2 separate regions of the Homo sapiens genome follow, and region 2 is linked to region 1. The links come from fine-mapping of genetic effects on gene expression. A gene starts in region 1. The other region holds a variant in brackets. All regions are shown on one strand. Distances are between the middles of the regions.

The links.
Region 2: its variant is fine-mapped to the expression of LINC02520 in hypothalamus (GTEx, PIP 0.92).

What each region holds. Positions count from the first base shown.
Region 1 is chr6:37,504,457-37,509,834 of GRCh38, forward strand. LINC02520 (long intergenic non-protein coding RNA 2520) reads left to right here and starts at 2,892. Exons shown (of 4, transcript NR_126057.1): 1 at 2,892-3,248.
Region 2 is chr6:37,492,725-37,498,102 of GRCh38, forward strand. All of the region lies in intron 1 of CCDC167 (coiled-coil domain containing 167), which reads right to left. Among named protein-coding and RNA genes, the nearest start is that of CCDC167, 4.5 kb to the right of the region's middle. The variant A/G (reference allele first, on the strand shown) is at 2,069.

The DNA of each region.
Region 1 (5,378 bases):
TGCTATTTAGTTGGTATCCAGTTTTTAGTTAACGTAAATCAAATTGTAGACAGTGAATCCACATGAAACTGAATTAGACAGCCAGTGACATGAAAACCAAAGGATCTCTATATATTGTTGAATATGCAGACCACTCCACCCTGCAGCATCTTTTTTTTTTTTTTTTTTTTTTCTGTCTCACTCTGTCACCCAGGCTGGAGTGCATTGGTGCAATCTCAGCTTACTGCAACCTCCGCCTCCTGGGTTCCAGTGATTCTCCTGCTTCAGCCTCTCGAGTAGCTGGGATTACAGGCACCCACCACCACGCCTGGCTAATTTTTGTATTTTTAGTAGAGACGGGGTTTCACCATGTTGGCCAGGCCGGTCTCGAACTCCAGACCTCAGATGATCTGCCTGCCTCGGTCTCCCAAAGTACTGGGATTACAGGCATGAACCATCGAGTCTGGCCCACCCTGCGGTATCCTCTTGATGAGAAGAAATTTCTACCAGACATTGGTGCTGAGCTAAGCTCTGTGGCCTTTCCTGGCATGCTGATATTCTCTTATCCTATGACTACTGTATCTTTTGTAACTGATCATGTTTCCCACTTTGTTCATGAGAAAGCTCAGAACCAAACTTGTTCAGGGACTTTGAGCATAAGTTTCCAGGTACAAGAATTTTCCCTGGCTTTATTTGATTTTTCTACCCGTGTTTTCCCTCCGCTCTATCCCCTTACTATTTTTATCCCACTATATTGTGTGCATTTTGCTAAGCTACCTCAAATCCTTTTTTGAAACACAAAGGAGCATAAATAAATCAATAAATAGATCCTGTGTTTGTAAATATGGCACTTTGTTCTTTCTACAGCAGTGTTTGTATCCATTAACTCTGTGGGTCCTCACATACCTCTGTGAGGAAAGTAAGGCAGGCTCCATTGCCCCAATTTTCCAGACATGGAAAAGTTTGCAGAAGAGGATACTCACCCCCTCCCTCTGTATAAAAGACCATATGAGCCTTTCTGAAGAAAACGAGAGTAAGAAACTAACAGCCTATTAGGTGACTTCTTAGTAGATATAGATTGAGGAAGGAGAAAACCAAGGTTGCTCTTGCCAGTTGGAAAGGATACAAATTGAGGTGACCCAGGCTTCAGAGAGTCCCCCAGAGTTCACGTCGGTGTTGCCATCTCCCCCAACCACCCCACCTTCTTATAACAGATCCACTCCCACTGTTCACATGGGTGGCATATGATCTAAGCGGGGCAGCCAGTCATAGAACCACATGTCCCTAGCCATAGTGATTAGTTCAGAAGGGAGGACTCATGATCTGAGCTAGGCCAATAAGAATCCTTTCCTGAGATTTGTTTCACCTGTAGCTGGGAAAGGAAATCCCACCTTAGCTTTGGTTGCAGAGCAGCTGACGTGTGATCCTGGAACTGCTGGCAACAGTGTTCTCTTCCTGAGAAGAAGCTCATGGAGTATGAAAGAGGGCAGGCAGCCAGCACAGGGCAGCAGCAATGAGAGACAATGAGGAAGACTGCCCTGGGGGTGCTTGTTTGAAACTTGAATTCCAGGTGCCCTAGCCTCACTTTTGCCCCTCGGAGAGTGGAGGCCAACAAATTCCCTCTTTTGAGTGAGCTAATTTGATCTGAGTTACTTCATTTACAGCCCACAGATTTTTTGATTCATGTAGTTTTTAGACTGAAGGAATAAACCCAGAAGTTTGCTTCTCTGGTGTCCAAGTTTTGGTTTCCCACCTCTGTGGGTCTCAATGTTCAGCTTATCCGAGAGGTCTTAGGCCCTGGGAAGTAATAATAATAATGTGTCTATCTACAACTGGACCACAAACAAAAGTACTAGAACCTAGTTCAGAGCGTGGATCTGACTCTGCTCTTCATCAACTGTGTGACCTTGGGCAAGTTATTTAACCTCTGAGCCTCAGTTTCTTCATCTGTGAAACAGAGATCATAGTAGCAGCTACTTCATAAGGCTCTTGTGAGGATTATACATAATAACCCTTTTCAGCATATGACGCTATGCCTGGCATCTAGTTAGCACACCACAAATATAGTTCAATTATTATGGATAATTTTATACACAATATCCCTCAAACAGTTCTATGAATAAGGCAGAACACAGATTCTCATATCTGTCTGGGCAGCGAAGACTGTGATGCTTAGAGGGCCGTGACCCACTAGGTCACGTAATAAGTGGAAGAGTCTGGATTCTGGACACCAGAATCAAATCCGGAGTCCCCCCACTTTGGACTTTGCTTCTCAAATGGCATTGTGTTGGCAACTGTCAGAAGGCCAATTTAATAGCTTATAAAGGGCACTGTCCCTCCAGGGACAGTGTTTATTAGAGAAGTCAGATTCTGGCCAGAATGCTGCTTGGTGGGGACAGAAGATTGGCTCTGGAAAGATGTCCAGAGAAAAGACTGCTTAAGCTGAAGTCCCCAGGCACCCCTGGCCAGTGTCAGCACACCCTCCTTCTCCCCGTCTTCTCCCTCGCTGCCAGCTCCTTGTACCCGCACACTTTACATATGAGAATTCTAAAAGACAGACGGTCAGAACCAGAAGCTAATATAGGGATCACTGTAGTCCACTCAGCCTTTATTAAACAGGCATAGTAGATGTAATGATGAGCCAGACACAGATCAAATCTCTCATTTACAGATGAGAACTGCGAGTCTGGGAAGGAAGGTATCTTCCCTAAGGTCTACTGTGAATTAGTAACTGCGTTAGGCACCTTCTAGAGAATATCTGCCTAGCTCACAATAGGCCCCCTTTCCTGAGGTTTGTGTGATCCCACCTACCCAGTCACAGCTGATTCGATCAGAGGAACACACCTGACCAAAGCTGGGCCAATCAGATTTTAACTCCCAGGAATCTGACCCTAGGATGAGATGCTGATCATAGTTAGCCCAGGGAGGAAGGGGACAGAATGACAGCATGGTTATATCAATGGTCCAATTCTTGGTTCCAACCCTTGATTGTCCTTCGAGAGCACCACCCATTCCTTACAACACATCTCTCCGCTTCATTTTGGGAGTTTTGAAGTTATTAAAGTTATTGATTTCTTTTCCTTACAACCAAAATAATCTAAATTAAGATTGTGGCCAAGTTTGGATTAAAACCTGCCTCCCGGCTCCAAGACCCATGTTTTTCTATCATGCTGACTGGCAGCAAAGACGTCTTCCCATGGATTTTTCAGAACTCTGTTCTTTAAATGTGACCTTAGATGCACCAGACTCATGCCATCCAAAGGTTGGAGGTAGGTGGTGGTGGGGGGTGGGGGTAGATGGTGATGGGGATGGGGGTAGGTGGTGGTGGGGTGGGGGTAGGTGGTGGTGGGGGTGGGGGTAGGGGTAGGTGGTGGGGGGTGGGGGTAGGGGTGTGGGTAGGTGGTGTTGGGGGTTGGGGGTAGGTGGTGGTGGTGGGGGTAGGTGGTGGTGGGTGAGGGTAGGTGGTGGTGGTGGGGGTAGGTGGTGGTGGTGGGTGGGGGTCGGGGTAGGTGGTGCTGGGGCTGGGGGTAGGTGGTGGTGGGGGTGGGGGTAGTTCTGGCAGGTGTCAAGTTCTTTGTTCTCTAACGCAATTACCTTGGGGTGGGGGATGGTGGCTACAGTGAGGCCTTCACCAGCTGCGCACCCAGGGCAGGTTGCTTTTCTCAGTTTCCTCCTCTGATATTTATCTTGTATGTGTAAAGTGCTTAGAGCAGTGTGCAGCAATGCAAGCTATTTATTATGTGAGTAACCTGCTTTTTAAAGATGGCATTTGCCCACAAAACCTTCTTAGACCCTTAGTGTTTAGCTTTCACTCACATCTCTCTAGCTACTGTAATTGCAGCCTGGAATGATTACATTTTCAGCAAAAAACAAGTCACATTCAAAGCCCAAGTGTGATAACCACATGAAAAGCAATCAGTCTCTGTCCTTTGACACACCTTGATATGAAGGCTGTACCTGTGATAAGGTAGTTGTCTCAGCGTATACATTCCCTAGGACAGGAGCTGACCAGCTTGATTGAAGTTTCTCATGAAACTTTCATTCAACAATTATTTGCTAAGTGCCTGGGCTGGGGGACAGGGGCTGTCTGTATGGTGACAGATTAACAGATAAATACAATACCAGGACTGTGAGAGAGGCAAGTGTAAGGAGCTATGGATGCAATGAGTATATGGACCCAGTTCAGATGGGGGCATTAGGGAAGGAGGCCCAGAGGAAGAGAAAGATGAGTAAGAGTTAGATGGGCAATGGAATTTTACACCCACAGATCAGCAGACACCTGACAAAACCAAGTGGGTACAAAAGTCTGGAAAGCAAATCAGCATTAACTAGCAAAGTTGAAGATGCATTTGTGCACCAGTTGAGGTATATGAGCGTGAACTTTGTTGCAACAGCGAAGAATCAAAAACGTAAATGTCCATTGTATTCATTAGCTGCTGCTGCAATAAAGCTGTGTAACAAACAATCCTAAGAATATCATTGGCTTATAATGACAAACATTTATTTCTTGCACACAGGAGTGCAGGTGAGCTGGGGTGAACTCACGTTCACATTGGCTACAAGTAGCTCTCATTTGGGGACTCAGGCTGAAGAGACAACAGCTTACTGGGAACATGCTCTTCTATGGCAAATGGCAGGACCGCAAGATGCCAAACTAAACCATAAAAGCACATTAAAAACCTCCATTTGTGGCCAGGCGCAGTGGCTCACGCCTGTAATCCCAGCACTTTGGGAGGCTGAAGCAGGCAGATTACGAGGTCAGGAGTTCAAGACCAGCCTGGACAACACCGTGAAACCCCTTCTCTACTAAAAATACAAAAATTAGCCAGGTGTGGTGGCACACCTCTGTAGTCCCAGCTACCCAGGAGTCTGAGGCAGGAGAATTGCTTAAACCCGGGAGGCGGAGGTTGCAGTGAGCCGAGTGAGACTCCGTCTCAAAACAACAAGAACAACAAAAAAACTCTCCTTTTGCATCACATTCTTTAGCATTTGCCCGGTTAAATTCCATTAGGCCAAACCCCAAGTCAATGGGATGGGGATATATTCTCCATCTACTCTGTACATCAAAGGGTTTGAGTGTATAGTCCTATATAGTCCTGGAGTAAAGAATTGGGAGTGATAATTCAACCAAACCATGAATAGAAGAATGGATCAATAAACTGTGGTGTAGTCATACAATGAAATATTACACAGCAATGAAAACAAATGGCCTAGATCGGCAAACTATGGCCCATGGACCAAATCCAGCTTGCTGCCTGTTTTTGTAAACGAGGTTGTTTTGGAATGTGGCCACATTCATTCATTTACATATTGTCTGTATCTGCTTTCGCACTGTAATGGCAGAGTTGAGCAGCTGCAACAGACTGTTGGGCCCACAAAGCTTAAAATATGAAAAATCT
Region 2 (5,378 bases), 12 kb before region 1:
TCACTCATTTTCACACGTCAGGAGACCCCAGGACATTTATTATAATGGGTAAAGCAGCCAAGTGCCTGCCCAGATGGTCTCTGGCAAGAGTGCAGGGGCTTTCCATTTGGAGCCTTCAGGCTCCACAGCAAGTCACACGGGGTTCTTAGGCCTCAATTTTCCAGGTGACAAGCCTCAAACCCCAAGGGGCCCATTATCCCCACATCGTTTAAGGGATGTTTTTCTGTGGAGGCGGCTCACAGAGCTCTGTGGGGGCAGAAAAACCTCCGCCCATGGCTCCCCACATCAACAGGCCCTGTAAGGATTTCTCTCGCAGGTTGTGCAGCTGAAGACGGCAGACCTTCCCAGTTTTTAATCAATGAACAATTTTCAGGAAGAGCAGGGAGAGCCTAGGGGCTTGTCGCTCGCCTGGACACACCCCCATGCCAGGTCAGAAAGGCGAGGGAACCGCTGCAGCCCACGCGAGTCCCGACGCCTTCCCGCGAGGAGACGGAGGCCGAGCCAGCCTTGCAAGTTAGCGCCCGAGCCAGTCCGCGCCCGAAGATGCCAGCTGTCCCTGGGCCGGAAGGTGGTGTGGGGTTTGTTTTGTCTTCTTTCCCCCCGATATCTATTTTTTGATAAACTAGCAAAAGCTTGTTCATCGCTGAAAGGCTCAAAGCACTTTTCAAGAACTGGCATCCACCCCGAGCCTTATGAATTCATTAATTAAGATGCTGGCAGACAGCCACTCCACACACGCCGCCATCCAGCCGCGCTAGGTAATGAGGTTTTAGTCTCCTGACCCCCGTCAAGTGGCGCAGAGCCAGATGTAGGCTGCCGCGAGAAATCACCTGCCCAATGGCGACCTGTCGCTCTCGCCTGGCAGCAGGTGAGGCTCATTTAATGGTCAGCGGCCCCTGAACAGTCCTCTGCGTGCTGCGAGCCTTTCTCCCAGCCCCTGGCTTGGGGTTCAGGGTCCCAGCAAGGTGGCGTCTAACCGCCTGCTCTACTGTGACCTCCACTCAACTGGGCCCAGACGTCAGGGTGGAAGGTTCAATGCCTCCTCCTGCCAATCGAGCCAGTTCAGCAAATATTTATTGACAGTCCACTCACCTGCTCCTAGCCCTTGTCTCAGGAAAGTGGGAGGTTCCCCTGAGCCCTGTGCACAGCCTGCTCCAGAGCGGAGACCGTCTTCAGCCACACTTGGTGCTTCTGCCTGCCCTGCCCCACGGAGGCTACTGCAGTGGCTGGCACCATACAAATAACCACAAGCGTCAAGCCTTCCGGTGCTCTTCCTGGCCTAGGCCATTCTCTCCCCTCAGCCTACCACTTCTCATGGTCAGTGATCCTGCCTTTTTTTTTTTTTTTTTTTTTTTTTTGAGACGAAGTTTCCCTCTTGTTGCCCAGGCTAGAGTGCGATGGCACCATCTCGGCTCACCGCAACCTCCACCTCCCAGGTTCAAGCGATTCTCCTGCCTCAGCCTCCCGAGTAGCTGGGATTACAGGCATGTACCCCCATGCCTGGCTAATTTTGTATTTTTAGTAGATGGGGTTTCTCCACGTTGGTCAGGCTGGTCTCGAACTCGTGACCTCAGGTGATCCGCCCGCCTGGGCCTCCCAAAGTGTTGGGATTACAGGCGTGAGCCACCGCACCCAGCCGATCCTGCCCTCTTTTTCTGGTAAGGATTCCAGTGAATTTTCAATGACTCCCATTAGCATTTATTCCTTACAGCAGATACTGTCAACTGGCCAACACAACACCGACTCCCCACCCCTGCTCCTTTGCCCACCTCTACTCCAGAAGGTGGAAAAGCTCAGCAGATGCTCTCCCAACCTCACTGCAGCTAGGCTTGCTCATGACCCAGTTCTGGCCAATGAGACGTTCCAGAAGTCAGCTAGGAGACTCCTGGGGAAGCTTATGCTTTGTTGATAAAAGGGACAGTGTTGTTCCTTCCTCCTCCTTCCTGAGTTAAAGTTGAATATTAGACTGGAGCTGTGGCAGCTATATTGTGACCATGAGGAAACAGTGAAGAGAATGCAGAAATACCAACTCTGACATAGCTAAGCTTTTGAACCAATGCCAGTAGCC[A/G]CCTACCTACAAATTTTTTTTTTTTTTTTGAGACGGGGTCTCTGTTGCCCAGACTGGAGTGCAGTGGCACGATCTTGGCTCACTGCAACCTCCACCTCCTGGGTTCAAGCAATTCTCCTGCCTCAGCCTCCCGAGTAGCTGGGATTACAGGCGTGTACCACCACTCCTGGCTAATTTTTGTATTTTTAGTAGAGATGGTGTTTCACCATGTTGGTCAGGCTGGTCTCGAACTCCTGACCTCAAATGATGCACCTGCCTCAGCCTCCCAAAATACTGGGATTACAGGCGTGAGCCACTGCACCTGGCCCCTACAAATTTCTATAAGGGGAAAAGTCTACTCCCATTTGCTTAAATCATTGAGGTCAGTTTTCTATAACTTGTAGCCAAAAGCTTTCCAAACTGATAAACTTTCTGTACTAGGGGTCAGATCCAACCAAGTTATCCACTTTAGGATACCGGCTAAGACACCACACATCTGTTAACTCAAGACCAACTGGTCACTGAAACATCTAAAGACACCAGTTTGAACAGTCCAGCTACAAAAGAAAAGTGCAATGACAAAGGAACAGCTCATTACCATCAGAGATCCGAAAACACAAACAGGTTTTACATCAGTCAAAATTCTCCTATCAGTTTAGACTGAAATTCAACCTTTCCTTCCTCCCACACAACATTAAAATCAGTACTGGGTGGGTGATTTCTCATTTGAACTATAATTTTCTTTTCTTATTAAGAATGAAATCTCAGAAGCTAAAACTCACAGTTTTTTCCAACTCTGAGATCTCATATGGTGGCAAATGAATTGGATAAAAAGACCTCAAAAGGAACCACTTTGAGGGGGAGGCTAGAGGGTGCCCTGGTTGTCCTAAGAGGTGGCTGCTTATACAGCTGGCCCAAGCCAGCCCTAAGGGTGAGTGCTGCCTGCTTGGTAATTGCTTCATTACAAGTGGAGACTGTTTGCAGGTGCTGAGATCACTCACTTGTGGGGGTTTTATTGCACTCGTCAGATTAACAAACATTTTTGATTAAATCACCACTTCATTGGCTCTGAGCACACAACTTTTAATAAGAGGACAATATCTACTGCTACTGAGCATCAGTGCACATTCAATACTCAGACCCGCTGGGGGCAACTGAGAAGCAAGGTGGGGAGACAGCCAGCCAGATGTCAGGCTTTTTCCAAGGCACACGGTTACAGATGTCAAATCTTCGAATATCCAAGCAAAAAGTAAACTTAGGGACCAAGATAGCAAATATAAACATCTACCGTGGTATGGAGAGGGTAAAACAATGGAATCTGCCCCAGTATAAGGCACTTGGAGAATACATGCCCCACCAAGTTTAAAAACGTAAAAATCCGGCCGAGTGTGGTGGCTCACGCCTGTAATCCCAGCACTTTGGGAGGCCGAGGCGGGCGGATCACTTGAGGTCAGGAGTTCAAGACCAGCTGGCCAACATGGTGAAACCCCGTCTCTACTAAAAATACAAAACTTAGCTGGGCATGGTGGTGCACGCCTGTAGTCTCAGCTTCTCGGGAGGCTAAGGCACGAGAATTGCTTGAACCCGGGAGGCTGGAGGCTGCAGTGAGCTGAGATCATGCCGCTGCACTACAGCCTGGGCAACAGAGCAAGACCCTGTCTAAAAATAAAATAAAATAAAATAAAAACTTAAAAGTCTGTCAGCCAAACAGAAGACATCTGTGATCTGTATTTGGGCCATAGTCAAGGAGTTTGTAACCCCTGGTGAAATTCAAGTCCTTCATGTTATAGATGAGTGAACGAATGCCCAAGAACGAGTTTGACTTAGCCATGGTGGAAGGATGCAAAAGAAATACAAAGGCTGGAGCTACCATGTATTGATTACCAATCCGGTGCCAGGCACGTGCTGGGCACTTAACGCAATGTCTCATTTAATCCTCACAACCACACTGTGAGGTGAGGTGCCATCTGTAGTGAGACTACAGGCTGTCTGTGAAAACACACTGGTCTCTTCCTCCATAGTAAGCAAACAGTAGCTGGCTATGTGGCCTCCTGACTGGTGAACGCATTTCCCTGATCCCTTGCAGTCAGGTGGGGTTTTAGTTCTTGCCAATGGAAAGTGGACAGTTTGGGCCCAGGACAGTGGGTGTGCTTCCTCCATTCTCCTCTTTCTCTGCCGGTGGACACATCAGTGGGGTATGCCCCGGTTCCACTGATAAGGTGACAAGATCTCAAGAGATGGTGAAGCCACAGAGGAAGGGAATCTGGCAGAACCACCATAGACCTGGTACTCTAGACCAGGAGTTGGCAACTAAGCCCTGTGGCCAAATGGTCTAAGGACTGTTCTTGCAGATAAAGCTTTAGTGGAACACTGACACACCCACTTATTTACATATTCCTTCATTTACATACTCCTACCTTAGCCTGAATACAGTTGGTTCTTGTTGTTCCTGGTAGCTATGTCCTATAAAGTTGCCTCTAATATTGAATTAGCAAATACCAAACCAGGTGAGGTTCCTGCAAGCCTATGGACACAACATTTTTGCAACCTTGTTTCATGTGTGATTCTGTTTAAAGTGACCTTATTCAATATATATTGTTGATTCATTAACACTGGACTCACAACCAACAGCACTATACGTGCTGTTACATCATGAGTTATATCATGCCTGAACAGTTTATCTAAAAAACCTGTTTTCTTCTACAACACATCACAGCCTTCTTGGATTTAGGAATGCCAGACAGCACTTCAGCCCTATGCTTGGGGTCGGGGGTCGGGGATCGGGGGCACTTTAAACAGCAAAATCAGGCAGTGGCTCACACCTCTAATCCCAGCACTTTGGGAGGCCGAGGTGGGCAGATCACCTAAGGTCAGGAGTTCGAGACCAGCCTGGCCGACATGGCAAGACCCCCGTCTTTACCAAAAATACAAAAATTAGCCGGATGTGGTGGTGGTCTAATCCTGGCTACTAGAGAGGCTGTGTCGGGGGAAGGTGGGGGTGAACACTTGAATGGGAGGTGGAGGTTGCAGAGCCAAGAGTGCACCACTACACTCCAGCCTGGGCGAGAGTGAGATTCTGTCTCAAAAGCAAAACACAGCGAAATACCAATAAAAAACATGAGAATGAAAAAAACAAAACAAAACAAAAACAGGGCACTAAATAGAACACAATAAGGACCCTTGTTTACAGTAGGACAGCTGAAACAAGGCAGGGCATCATCACCTGTTCAACTTTAGCTGAGAACATGGACTGCGAGCGACTCAATTTTTTTCCCACTGCTTTGCATTTGCCACAAAAGCACTGTGAGTACTGATTTTGGGGTTACAAATA